Homo sapiens: one gene and its partners. The protein of the gene in region 1 purifies or fractionates together with the protein of each later gene. This does not show direct contact. Each region holds a gene or a part of one and is shown in the gene's direction. Other genes may lie near its edges.

Region 1 (3,500 bases):
ATTTTTGTATTTTTGGTAGAGACAGGGTTTCACCATGTTGGCCAGGCTGGTCTTGAACTCCTGACCTCAGGTGATCCACCCCCTCGGCCTCCCAATGTGCTGGGATTACAGGCGTGAGCCACTGTGCCCGGCCATAGCTTCTTAAAAGGATACGTTAAGGACCTTAAAAGGATATGGCCTCTTAAAAGGATATGTTTACACACCCTTGTAGCAAATAAGAAGCCATGTGAGGTTTTGAGCAAGAGAAAGATGGTTATTAGGAAAGCTAATCTGGCTCTGGTAGGAAGGATATACAGAGGAGACACCGAATCCAGGGCATCAGTGAGGAAGCTGTTGCTGTCCTCCAGGTTTAGAGCAGTGGCGGTGGGACTGGAATAGATGTGCCCAAGAGACATTCAGTGGAAACGAACCAAGATTTTCCAACCCCATGTCAAAAAGTGGGAAATAGAGAAGTCAAAAATGACTCTCAAGTAGTTTGTATGACCATTGTCAGAGAGGAGAATGATAGAATACTTGTCAGCAATTTGAAATGTCTTCTGCCAGTTGCCACATGTTACCCTGCAATGAGAAAAGCCACTTTCCTGAGAATGGATACTACCCAGTGGCCTCCTCATCTGGACACCACGAAGCTTCTCACTGGTGTTGTAAGTGGAAACCAGAGTAGCTGCCTATCTCCTTGATTATATTTTTTCTTAAAAATGTATAACTATCAGAACACAGAACAAACAGCTCCTAACCGCTTTGGTGTAGTGATCACACAATTTAGAATAAGACTTAGAAGACTTTCCTTTTTTTTTTTTTTCCAGAGACAGGGCCTCCTTCTGTTGCCCAGGCTGCAGTGCAGTGACATGATCATAGCTCACTGTAACCTCGAAGTCCTGAACTCAAGCAATCCTCCCACCTCAGCCTCCCAAGTGGCTAAAACTATAGGCATGCACCACCACACCAGTTCATTTTTTAAATTTTTTGTAGAGTTGGGGCTGTATTTCCCAGGCTGTTTTGAACTCCTGGCCTCAAGTGGTCCTCCCCACTGGGCCTACCAAAGTGCTAGGATTATAGGTGTGAGCCACCACACCCAGCCTCATTCATCTTTTATGGTTTGCTGTCTCTGTTCAATCAAAACCCAGCCTCCTCCCATCTCTGTGCTGACAGACCTGGAAGGAGAGGAGTATGGGGTATACAGCAGAGTAGAAAATGTCTCCAGGTGATTCTAGAGCAATCCATTGTCTCCTCCCAGCCCAAACACATGTGTACTGAGCACGGCGCACATCACTTATTAACTTACTCTGCACCTCCCTAGTAACAAGTCCATTGGTGAGACTTACACAGAGCCAAGGCAGGTGACTTGGCTTTGTGCCAGGATACCAAAATTTAAAGGGTGCAAGAAAGTATTAATACTGGTTTTAAAAGATTATGTGACTGTAAATTTTGTTAGATTTACACATTGACAGCCCAGCATTCCTTCAACTGTCTAGAAACAACTGAGCTTAGCACCTAGTTAACAAGAATAATTAGTTAAAACGGGAAGCTAGCAGATGGTGTACATTGTTAGTAACACCCCTCTGTGTGCCAAATCCGGAGCACAAAGTTGACCGAGGGCCCGTGTACTGCAACTTGCCCAAGGCATCAAAATTGCCAGTTCCGGGCAAACGGAAAGTCTGGTTTCAGGGTGGCTTTGTACTGAAAACCCTTGTTGGCAGATTCTGCTTGGCCATTCATTACTCTAGCACAGGCCTCACTATCTACTTATAACTTATTAAGGAGGTGAGATGTTGCCTTTCTTCGCCTTCTCAATTTAAATTTCAGTTTCTGCCTTGAATCTTTCATGCCTCCAGGTCAAAAGAGAGAGACAGAGACAGGGAAAATGACATCATAACCAAATATGGAATTGCTTTAAATTCAGGCTGGTATCTTCTCCCATCACGGCTCTCCTGGGCAACCAGTTTCCTGATGACCCCAACTCACTTTCAGAGGGCTCTTATGAATTAGCTCTGTGCTACAAAGTGGGAGACTGACCTCAGTTCTTCCACCACTAACTAGCTTTGTGCCCTGAAAACATCACTTCACCCCTCCCAAACACAGAATAAGCAGGCCTCCTGTTCTTACCTAGCCCCAGTGTGCCACTACTGAACTATAAGATCTTGAGAAAATTCTCTGAACCTATTTCATCATCTCCACCTTAAGGACACTGGAATAGATGATCTCAAAGGCCCCTCCAGGGTAACTTTCTACAGCTCTATTTAAGCCAGTTTTTCCATTCAGGTAAGTGTGGACAGATTGACTTTGAGATAATGGTAACTTATTCAAGGAGAACTGGACAGTAAGCACTTGGAGAAATGTGGGTGGAACTCAGTGTGAAAGGAAGAGGAGGGGTCTGGAAATAGATTTTGGGGTGAGACTTGAAATCATGAGAATGAAGGAGCTTCCCAAAGGGGAAGTGTAAAGAAAAGAGCGTCAGAGACAGCCTTGGAAGAATAGGAGGTGGGAAGAAAACACTGCAAAAGAAATAGGGCCAACTTCCTGGTGGGTCGCGCCTGTAACACTTTAGGATACTGAGGCAGGTGGATGGCTTGAGCCCAGGAGTTCCAGACCAGCCTGGGCAACATGGCAAGACCCTGTCTCTATAAAAAATACAAAAATTGCCCGGGTGTGGTGGCACGCACTTGTAGTCCCAACTACTTGGGGGGCTGAGCCAAGAGGATGGCTTGAACCCAGTAGGTCAAGGCTGCAGTGAGCTGAGAACATGCCACTGTGCTCCAGTCTGGATGACAGAGCAAGACTCCGTCTAAAAAAGAAAGAAGCCAACCTTAAATGGTTAGCGGCAGATCTTAGGGTAGTTTTCAAAAAAGATGTTTTAAGAAATAGAAGTTATTTTGACGATAGTTCCTAAGTAGGAAGATTTTGTTGTCATTGTTGTTGTTGTTTTTAATATAAAGATAAGGTCTCGCTGCATGGCCCAGGCTTCTCTCAAACTCCTCAGCTCAAGTGAGCCTCCCACCTTGGCCTCCCAAAGTGCCATGATTACAGGCATGAGCCACAGCTCCTTGCCCAGAAGGAAGTTTTTATCAACATGGGTAAATGCACCTCCCTTACTTACTGCAGCCCTGGTCCAGAACTTACCCCTCTCTCTAGGCTGTGAAGCTTCATGGAGGTATCGATATCCTAGTCTCCAATGCTGCTGTCAACCCTTTCTTTGGAAGCATAATGGATGTCACTGAGGAGGTGTGGGACAAGGTGAGAGGGGATTAAAGCAGGGGGGCCGGGGGGGGCGCCTTGGAACACATTCAGCACAAACTCCATCTGCTTTTAGAATGCATTTCTCAAGGGCAGTGTAAATGTGAGGACTCTTTGCCACGTGCCACACACCTGGAGCACACCTTGCAAAGGGCGGGTGGGGGTGGCTCTATCCCTGCCCTTCTCATTCGTTTCTGCTACTCCTAGTTCTCTCTGCTTCTATCTGCTCTTCACTAGCCACAGTCTGCTCCTCTCCCCAGGCTTTT
Region 2 (3,500 bases), on another chromosome or scaffold:
TGAAGGCTGAGGTGGAAAGATCACTTAAGCCTAGGAATTCAAGGTTACAGTGAGCTATGATTGCACCACTGCACTCCAGCCTGGGCCACAGAGCAAGACCTTGTCTCTCTAAAAAACAACAACAACAAACTTATAGCCAGAGGCTTAGATGTAATAAGACCTAGATGGAAGCAGTTGACAACTATCACAAATTAAGGTAAATAAGAGCCATTCCCCTTTACTAGAGTAAATTTTAGCACTCACTAACCAATGATTCAAGCTTAAGATATTTTTTCAGAATTTTCTTAGGTTGGACATTTTTCCTGAACACAAAAGTAATATATGTCAATGGTAGAAAATTTTTCAACTATAAAAAATTATAAAGAAGAAAATAATAAACATTCATAATTCAAACCTAAAGATAACCACATCTTTTTCTTGGTATCTTCCATGGGATAATCACATTTAATTCAGTTTCAATGAATAATATTTACAAAACTAAGATCATACTATATGGTTTTTTTTGAAGATAGGGTCTCATTCTGTTGCCTAGGCTGGAGTGCAGTGGCACAGTCACAGGTTAGTGCAGCTTCAGCCTCCCCAGGCTCAGGTGATCCTCCCACCTAAGCCTCCTGAGTAGCTGGGACTATAGGCGTGTGCTGTCAGGCCCGGCTAATTTTTGTATTTTCTGTAGAGGCAAGGTTCCATTATGTTGCCCAGGCTGGTCTCGAACTCCTGAACTCAAGTGATCCGCCCACCTTGGCCTCCCAAAGTGCAGGGATTACAGGGATGAGCCACCATGCCTGGCCTATATGTCTTATTTGTATTTCATTTTTTTCTTAACATTATGCAGATTTTTTCCATGCCAATAAATGTTTGTAGACCTATTTGTTTATAGCCTACATATGATTCAAACTCTGAGGATGACCCTGAGTTTCTCCTTTGAGAAGACCTATTTTTAAAGGAAGGGGTGCTTGTAGTGGGCCAAAGCTGCCTGAATAGAAAGCTACTGACTTGCTGGGAGAATGATATTTCTTACTCTCTTCTAACAGTATATTTCTGCCGGATAAGTATATTTCTTATAATCAAAATAGCATTTGATGGTGGTACGTACATCCAGTGCTTCAAATTTAAACCCTTACCTGTATATATTTCCCTTTGGCAGGTAAATACACTGAGTAAAGAGCTACATTCAGAGTTCTCAGAAGTTATGAATGAAATCTGGGCTAGTGATCAAATCAGAAGTGCCGTCCTTATCTCATCAAAGCCAGGCTGCTTTATTGCAGGTGCTGATATCAAGTAAGTTTTAGGAAACTTGAAGTCACCTTTTATCTTGGTTAATAGTGTGTTTCTTAGGCCTAATAATTTCTCCTTTTAAAAGAAAGTAGAAGTGCTGGGCACAGTGACACAGGCCTGTAAAATTGAAAATGTACGTATCAGGCTGGGTGTGGTGGTTCTTGCCTGTAATCCCAGCACTTTGGGAGGCCGAGGCAGGTGGATCACATGAGGCCAAGAGCTCAAGACCAGCCTGGCCAACATGGTGAAACCCTGTCTCCACTAAAAATACAAAAATTAGGCATGGTGGCACACGCTTGTAATCTCAGCTACTCAGGAGGCTGTGGCACGAAAATCCCTTGAACCTGGGAGGCAGAGGTTGCAGTGAGCCGAGATCACACCACTGCACTCCAGCCTGGGTGACAGAGTGAGACTGTCTTAAAAAAAAAAAGTATATACACACACACACACACACACACACACACACACACACACACAGAGTATATATATATATATATACACACACACACACACACACATCATGTGATCTAGAGAAATCTCACCCCTTGTTTATAAGAACCAGTGTACAAGGATGTTTGGTCCTGTGTAGTGTGAAATAATGAAGAATTTAAAACCAAATGTCAGTCAGTAGGAAAATGGGTAAGTAAAATGTGGACTATTCACACAATAGAATACTACAAAACAGGTAAAAGGAATTAACTAGATCCACAATATGATGTTAGAACTCAAAAACATAAGGTTAAGTTAAAAGAAAAGCAAATTGCAGAATGTTTCATACAGTATATAGTTTCTATAAATGTTTTAAAACCAAACATGGAATAATTCTTGATACTATTTATGGACACAATCGTAGTTGGTCTGGAAGGAGACACTACAAACATGAAGATGGCTGCTTTGGGGAAATGAAGTGGGTGGTAGGACTTGATTGTTAAAGGCAGCTTTACAGATGCAGCTAGTATTTTCTTTTCCTCTGCTAAATGGTGGAATGCATGCCTACATTAACTTATTTACAATTGTTTACACATACATAAGGAGGGGAAATGATATTTTAGTGTCAGTTTAATAGGTTAAAATGTTAAGTTGTCAATTCCATTAAAATATGGGTATTTGTTATGTTCTTTGTATTTTAGACAATGATAGCCAGCATTGTAGGTTTAGTAATTTGTACTGAAAGTGTAATTATTTATGTGTAGTAATCAGTCTCTTGTTAGGCACAAATAATTCAGCTAGAAGAAAAACCACTTGATAAGATAATTTTGGGTCTTCTAAAAAATTAACATTAAACAGAACATTTATAAAGTCTAACAAGACACTGATGTACCTGGCAGTAGCTACCTATATCCAGAGGAAAATACATGTAGCTTCTATGAGGCCAGCTGAGCAACTCTCAGTGTATAAAATTACAGAATATACTAGTTATCCTTGGTCAAAAGTACAAAATCCATATCCTAAGTGTGTTCACAAAATAGCAAATGAAACAAACTGAAATTAAAGGACATTGAGTGGAACATCATTGCACCTGATCATTTTTATTTACTTATTTATTTTTGAGACGGAGTCTCCCTCTGCTGTCCAGGCTGGAGTACAGTGGTGCGATCTCGGCCCACTGCAACCTCCACCTCCCAGGTTCCAGTGATTCTCTCGCCTCAGCCTCCCGAGTAGCCAGGACTACAGGAATGCAGCACCACGCCCAGCTAATTTTTGTATTTTTAGTAGAGACGCGGTTTCACCATGTTGACCAGCCTGGTCTCGAACTCCTGACCTCAGGTGATCCACCTGCCTTGGCCTCTCAAAGTGCTGGGATTACAGGCATGAGCCACCATGCCTGGCCTACCTGGTCATTTTTATTCATTAGTGGGATCTGTTAAAATGTTTTAGATTTCTCTAAACAACCTGGAAGCTTTTCTTTTGCGTCATTTTTATTGCTGTTAACTACCTGATAGTGAAATGTTTAATCTGATAGTGAAGTAATTTACCAAAGATGATTTTCCCTTGTACCAAGCTTTGTAATTTAATGATTTATTACAGAAGTAAAAATAAATTATGCAACACATTTATGTTTTCTGGATCCAGAATTTTTTTTTTTTTTTTTGAGACAGAGTCTCACTCTGTCGCCCAGGCTGGAGTGCAGTGGCGCGATCTCGGCTCACTGCAAGCTCCACCTCCCGGTTTCACACTGTTCTCCTGCCTCAGCCTCCCAAGTAGCTGGGACTACAGGCGCCCGC
Region 3 (3,500 bases), on another chromosome or scaffold:
TCTTGTGTTATTTTCTTTATTGTTAGAAATCTACAGATGTTTCTATTTTCACATACTATTTACTTGTAGGTCTGACAGTTGGGAAAGAAATCGGTGAAATCATCTGGTGCCATTTGGCATATTAGTAGTACATTGGGCAACTCTCCTTTCCCTGAGAATTTAAGAAATCTAATTGTAGAGATAAGTTTTAAATATTTATGAAAAGCTTAGGAACTGTGCAAAATAATATTGAAATCATAAGACATTCTCTATGTAGATTTCTTCTTACCCTTAGTTGCCCATAAACTTTTTGCAAGTAGGAACCTACTTATTTATATTTGTATTTTCTCCATGCCTTATACTCAGAGAGTGCTAGGTAAGTTTTTATCGATTGACACGTATCAATAGACAGGTGAGAGGCAGGTAAAAAGTATGTGTTCAAAGGAGAGAACAAGATCCCTGTGGCTTGACATGGCCTAGAAAAGCTTCAAGAGGAAAGTACTTGAGCAGGGCCTTAGAGGGTAGGTAAAGTTTGGATTGGGAAGGCATTCTAAGAAGGCAGAATCACAGGATAGGTGGAGAGGCACAAGAGCTTCATCAGCATTAAGGAACAAAAAGGAAACCTGTTTGGAGGACTAGTATAGTGCTGGGAAGTGAGGTGTGATGTATTGGGACAGTATTTAGGAGGATTTGAGTGTCAGGTTGAGGAATTTGGAGTTTATGCAATTCAGAGCCACTGGAGCATTTTGAAGAGGAAAATGACATCATTATAAAGCTGGTGGGCAAAATAATAATGGCCATATCTGAACACGTATGATTTTCCAGTTTCCCGTTACTGTGCTCTGTTTTATATTTGTGTTAAATAGCTCTGCGAGATGTATTTATTTTGCTGATTAGAAACTGATGCCTCGGCTGGGCGTGGTGGCTCATGCCTGTAATCCCAGTACTTTGGGAGGCTGAGGTGGTTGCATCACCTGAGGTTAGGAGTTCGAGACCAGCCTGGCCAACATGGTGAAACCCCGCCTCTACTAAAAATACAAAAATTAGCCAGGTGTGGTGGCAGGTGCTTGTAATCCCAGCTACTTGGGATGCTGAGGCAGGAGATTCTCTTGAACACGGGAGGCAGAGGTTGCAGTGAGCTGAGATCACGCCATTGCACTCCAGCCTAGACGACAGAGTGAGACTCTGTCTCAAAAAAAAAAAAAAGAAAGAAACTGATGCCTGGAGCAGTTCGTTAAATTGAAGGGAGACTGTTTCAGTGGTCCAAGAATGAGATAAACTAAACCTAGGTGGTAATGGTAGGAGTTAAAAGGAAGAGTATTTAGGACTCTACAAGGAAAGAATCAACAGTTTGGTGACTGATTAGATCTGAAGATCAAAGGGAGGAGGCAAAACTCACTTTGAAGTTTTTGAGTCTGGATTAGTAAAAGTAGGGGAAAGAATGTTAATGATCAGATAAAGGGAATAGAAAATGGCAATAGAAATATGGCAGTTGGAAAGGGGAATTGATTTGATAAATAGATGTTTTCCTTGTAGGGGTTGGAGGGAGCAGGGACGGTGAGTATGCTGAGAGACAAATGTCCAGGGAATAGGCAGTTGAAGATGACTTTGGACTTCTGAGAAGATGGCCAAGCTGAAGTTAGGGATTGGAAAGTGGTCATTGTGAAATCATGGAAGTTGATAAGCTGTCTGAGGGAGAGCGGGGAGCTGCAGAATTCTGAGAACTAAGTCTTAGGTATTTGGTTTAGTAGAGTTTGATGACAGGAGGAGGAAGCAACACTAAAGGTGAAGAAGGGAAGGAACCAAAGCTTTTACAAATTATTTACTTAATACTGCTTTTAATTGCTTCATGACATATTAAATATAAATTTAAGACAGTACTTTTATTAGAAGAGCCTACTGTGATTTGGATTCTGGTTTACTTCAGAATCTACCTTTTCCTGTAATGGTCCTCATTGCTGAGAATAGTCAATCAAACTAGTTACAGCTTGTAGTCTGAGAGTGAGCAAAATCTGTGATTCTGGAATTCTCTCTGGCCATTATTTTCCTTAAGTTACTAATTAGAAATTGGTTTTGTTTTAAAGCTGGAAAATAAATTGATTACTTCTCTTTAACGAAAGGTAATATGTTACTAGGTTAATGCTGTGAATCATAATGATTTCTCTGTAGCTTTTTCTGCATAATAAGGCACCCCAACTTGATGGCTTAAAACAACAACTATGTAGCCCATGATTTTGTGGGTTGGCAGTTGGGGCTGGATTTGGTTAGGAAATCTGGGTCTGGCTTGGCTCATCTGTGTGTCTGTGATCAGCTGCCAGATCGTCTGGGAGCTAGCTGGTTTGGAGGGCCTCGGTGCACACAGCTGGCTGATCTCTGCCCTACATCTCTCCTCCTCCTCTAGGCTAGCTCAGGCTTGTTCACACATCGTGGCTGGGCTGGGCTCCAAGAGAGCAGGTGGAAGCATGCAACACATTTGAGACCTAGACGTGGAACTGGCACACTGTCACTTCCACTGCATTCTTTTGGCCAAAGCGAGTCACAAGGCCAGCCAAGATTCAAGGGGAGGGGAAATAGACTCCCTATCTTGATGAAAGTTGTTAGAAAACGACGTTTCAGAGGCCATAGATGCAGGGAGGTTTGTGATTTTTGCAGCCTACCCCAATTAAATTTTTTTTTCTCTTTCAGCATTTTTCTGATTATAAAACTAAGTTGTATACCTATTAGAAAACTTGAAAACATACAACATATTTTTATAGGCATTAATATTAGTGAATGTATAGTTGTCTTTCCAAGTATATTATGCATCATGATTTTCTGACAGTTGGTTGCATTAGATGTTATTTGTTAAATTATGTGATTATTAATTTGGCAGAATAAAAGTGGTTGTCATAAAATGTTAATTTAGACACTATATATTTATTTTTTAACATTTATATATATAAAAATTTGAATCATTTTGTTTTCTTGTATTTATTACAGATTCATTATATTTTAAAACCAGATGGAGTGTTTATCGGTGCAATGTTTGGAGGCGACACACTCTATGAACTTCGGTGTTCCTTACAGTTAGCGGAAACGGAAAGGGAAGGAGGATTTTCTCCACACATTTCTCCTTTCACTGCTGTCAATGACCTGGGACATCTGCTTGGGAGAGCTGGCTTTAATACTCTGACTGTGGTAACTATCAAGTTCGATTAACCCATAACTTACACAGTTCAAAAAAGAACTTCTTATCATTTTAAAGATAGAAAACTGTATGTGTTCATGGTTTCATGGCACTCTTTCTCTCCCTTTTTTTTTCTCTTTTTAAGGGAAAAGCTCTGATTGACAATGTTTAGTTTGTATAACACATCTTAATTGACACAAGGTAGGAATGTATAATTTTTTACTGTTACCTTAAAAAGTAGCTCAAAAAATGTATCATAGTTAACAAGACAAATTTCTAAACATACAACTCCATTAGAATCTTCAAATCTAGTATTAGGTGTAAAAAGGGCCTTAGAGTATTCCAGATGATAGGA
Region 4 (3,500 bases), on another chromosome or scaffold:
CTCTCTTGCCTCAAGGTGAAAGCCCTCCAACCCATATCTTAGGTTATGGTGAGCATCAAGTGACGATGCTGTGTGCTCATCACTTATGTCATCACATCATGGTGAGCACACAGCAAGTGCCTATTCCTTGACTTGTATTTATTCGTCACTTCCTACTTACCATAGCAGTGCCCCATCTACTCTCCCATTTGATCCTATGGGGAAGATAGCATGGATGCTAAATTAGACCCACTTTTCAGATGAGAAAACTGAGGCCCTACAGCATTCTTAGGCTTATCTAAGGTCACCTATTAGGGGAAGAAATAAAACCAGAATCAATCCAGTCTCTCAACTCCTCACTGTGATACCGTTGTTCTCAGCTGCTCTAGGAAGCTGGATTGGAAACTTGCCAGTGTGTCCCCATTTCACATTGGGAGATGAGAGGCATGAGAAGCTCCATAAAAACAACCATGTATTTTATTTTTAAATCATAGGTGGTGCTTCTATGAAACTCCTGCCTGTGCTAGCCCTGTGGGTCAACTCATTATAGAATCTGTGTTTTGCGTAGACACTTTATAGCCACATGACAGGCATGTTTGAGACCTGCCTTCAAAATCCAAGAGAGCCCTGGACTTTAAGCTACGTAGCCAGTGTACCTGGGACCCAAAGAGTGATGTATGGAAAGTGTCATTCTCAGAGCCCAGTGTAAAATAGACTTTTACCAAACAGAAGCTCCCTTTAATTTGCCTCCCAAGACAGCTGACGAAATGAAATGAGCACTGGCCTGGAGTCTGATGATGTGAATTCTAGTTCTGGCTCTCTGATCCCTAGTTTCTTCATTTGTAAAGAGACACTGACACCTCCAGATCTTGCTGCTTCAGAAGCATTCTTTGTACATTTATATGATTTCTTTATCAGATCTGTGAACTTATTTTTTTCTCTCATTAGCCTGTATACTATTTCTTCCAAATTGAGTGGCTCTGTTAACTTTCCTTACTAGAGCTAATAAGCCTTGGGAAGGAACCTTAATGGTGTTCTGTGATATCATCATAAGGTAGGGTGGTGGAGCCCAAAAGACTTAGTTATAGTAGCAATATGATAAGGGATAAAGAACAACTATCTGAGTCCAGCTGCTTGGGTTCAAATCCCAACTGTACTCTACTAGGTGGAGTTGGCCAGGACCTCTGTTTACATCAGCTTTCTCATCTGTAAAGTAGGCTCCATAATGGTGCCAGTCTCACTGGATTGTTCGGAAGGTTAAATGAGATAGTGATGTAAAATGTTAAACGCCGTTCTTGGCATGTGGTAAGCAATCAGTACATGTTGGATGTTACTCTTATTGTTCTTGCCTCACTAAGATCATGTGAAATCAAAATGATGATTCCGGCCAAGAAAGTCAAGCCCAAAAACTTGTTCAAAATTACATAGCAAATCATTAGAAGAACTAGGGTGAGAACCCAGGTCACTTGACATAAGTAAGCACGAGAGTCTATAGTCCATCTGTCGTCCGACATTCATTGGCATCTGGACACAAAGCTCAGCACCCTTCAAGGTGAAGACTGTCAAGAGCCCAGCTGATTGGCAGAGAGGAAGCTATGAGGCAGTGTAGCATGATGGCTAAGAGCACAGACTTGGAGCTGAATTGCCAAGCGCAGGTGACCTTGAGCAAGTTACTTTAATCTGTGACTTAGTTTTCTCATCTGTAAAGTGGAGATGATAGTAGTGCTTACCTCAGAGACTTGTACATGTTCTAAGCCCTTTATAGCTTGCCTAAAACATTGCCAGGCACATAGTAAATACCCAGTAAATCCTGAAACCTGCAGATCTCTTGACTGAGCAGCCTAGGGACCCTCTGGAAATGCTTTCTGGCTTATGCCCCATGTGCTGATAGCAGTGCTTTCCCCCATGTGGCCTTAATAACTTCTCTAAGCCCTGTCCCACCTCTTGGATTAGATCCTCAGACCCCTGGTGAGGCAGGGAGAGGAGCCAAGAGCCTTCTGTAACACAGGACAAAACTGCAGCTCAAAAAGGGGAGGCAGCATGTCCAAGGCTCCACAGGCAGGCAGAACTAGGACTGGAACCCGAGCCCCCTGGCTCCCAGCCCAGGGTTCTTCTTGCCACCCTGTGTCTCAGCTGTAGAATGACAGGACAGAGAAAGAACTAAAAGTACATCATGGCGTGAATTTCTGACCAGTGGCCAAGCTAGAATATAGCCCTGGATTTCAGACATAGCTACCTCCCGCTGAGAATCTTGGCACCCCCATCATCACCGGCTCTCAGGAGAAGCAGGATTCAGTGAATGCTGTCTCTTAGATGGAGGCATGTGCCAGTAGGAGAGGAGCCCGGGGGACTGTGGGGAACTGTGGTCCTGGCTGTGGCTAGACAGGGCACCTGTGGATGCCTTTACAGCTCCCTAATCAGGTAATGCTTCTTGAAAACCAGTGGGCACTCTGCCTGTGTTAACTCTTCAGATCACATAATGCAAGCTGTTCTCTTCCCCAAGGGCTAACCATGGCCCTCACCCATGGGGCCACTTCCTCGGAAATCACCCCTACACCCTGTGGTGGAGAGAAAAGGGCTGTAAAGCTATGTTATGGATATCTTTTTTAATGAAATGAAGAAATGTAAATACATTTTAAAATATATTCATTTTGAAGAAAAGTAAATCAAAGGGACACGGGCATCACACAGACTTGCAGAGTTGAGAGGCATTCTGGAGCCATCTGAGTGTTTCTCTCCTCCCTCGCACCACAGTCCACACTGATCGTGACTGACTTTGTCCATGTCTGCACCATTCGATGGGGTGCTTCTTAAGGACAGAGACCAAGACTTGTTCCCTGTTGTAACTCCGGTGTCCAGCACACACAGGATGCCCTCAGGAAACGTGGAATGGATGGATGGGTGGGTGGATGATGTGGTGATCAGAACAGGAGAGGCCTCCCTGAAAGAAGACACCCCAAGTCAGATTTAGAAGGTCAGGTACATGATTTGGGTCTTTTAAGGAAGAGAATGAGGGACTCGTAGGAAATGAGTGCACAGAAAAGGAGACAGGAAGTCAGAAAAAAACATCTTGAGCGTGAGATAGAAGATCTTATGTTGGTGTGGTGTGAAAGCCTTGGGGATAGTTGAGGTGCTCTCCTCCCTAACCCTTCTCTTCACTTTCCTGCCTCCAAACGGAGTTGGTACTTGCTTGTTTCCACACAGGGCTTCATCAGGCTGGACATGTCCGAGTTCCAGGAGCGACACGAGGTGAGTGATGACAGTCCTTGATTGAAGCATGGTTTGGAGGGCTTGTCAGCATGACTGCCGGGGTCTTGTCATTTGGGCCTCAGATAATTCCAGCAGCCTTGGGATTTGTCGTTGGGAGCACAGGTGTGCAGCAGGGTCACTGATTTGTTTCACATAGGATTTGCTCTGAAGAATAAACATAGAGAAGATCTATCTGCCACACCAGGAGATGGACAGCCAATCATCTCTGTTGAGAGAGGCAACCTTAATAGCGTATAAAGTCATCTTCCCAT

What was found. The genes of interacting proteins can lie anywhere in the genome.
Region 2: the proteins of DHRS4 (region 1) and HADHA purify together in Homo sapiens (co-immunoprecipitation; one large-scale study listed by IntAct). This does not show direct contact.
Region 3: the proteins of DHRS4 (region 1) and NDUFAF5 purify together in Homo sapiens (affinity purification with mass spectrometry; one large-scale study listed by BioGRID and IntAct). This does not show direct contact.
Region 4: the proteins of DHRS4 (region 1) and CLPB purify together in Homo sapiens (affinity purification with mass spectrometry; one large-scale study listed by BioGRID and IntAct). This does not show direct contact.

The regions. Positions count from the first base shown.
Region 1 is NC_000014.9:23,956,770-23,960,269, forward strand, and holds part of DHRS4 (dehydrogenase/reductase SDR family member 4), read left to right. Parts: intron 1-3,132; coding exon 3,133-3,234; intron 3,235-3,500. UniProt on the Homo sapiens protein: NADPH-dependent oxidoreductase which catalyzes the reduction of a variety of compounds bearing carbonyl groups including ketosteroids, alpha-dicarbonyl compounds, aldehydes, aromatic ketones and quinones.
Region 2 is NC_000002.12:26,234,633-26,238,132, reverse strand, and holds part of HADHA (trifunctional enzyme subunit alpha, mitochondrial precursor), read left to right. Parts: intron 1-1,144; coding exon 1,145-1,278; intron 1,279-3,500. UniProt on the Homo sapiens protein: Mitochondrial trifunctional enzyme catalyzes the last three of the four reactions of the mitochondrial beta-oxidation pathway.
Region 3 is NC_000020.11:13,798,528-13,802,027, forward strand, and holds part of NDUFAF5 (arginine-hydroxylase NDUFAF5, mitochondrial), read left to right. Parts: intron 1-2,958; coding exon 2,959-3,156; intron 3,157-3,290; coding exon of another isoform or gene 3,291-3,317; exon of another isoform or gene 3,318-3,346; intron 3,347-3,500. UniProt on the Homo sapiens protein: Arginine hydroxylase that mediates hydroxylation of 'Arg-111' of NDUFS7 and is involved in the assembly of mitochondrial NADH:ubiquinone oxidoreductase complex (complex I, MT-ND1) at early stages. May also have methyltransferase activity.
Region 4 is NC_000011.10:72,302,032-72,305,531, reverse strand, and holds part of CLPB (mitochondrial disaggregase), read left to right. Parts: intron 1-2,570; exon of another isoform or gene 2,571-3,183; coding exon 3,184-3,228; exon of another isoform or gene 3,229-3,500. UniProt on the Homo sapiens protein: Functions as a regulatory ATPase and participates in secretion/protein trafficking process. Has ATP-dependent protein disaggregase activity and is required to maintain the solubility of key mitochondrial proteins.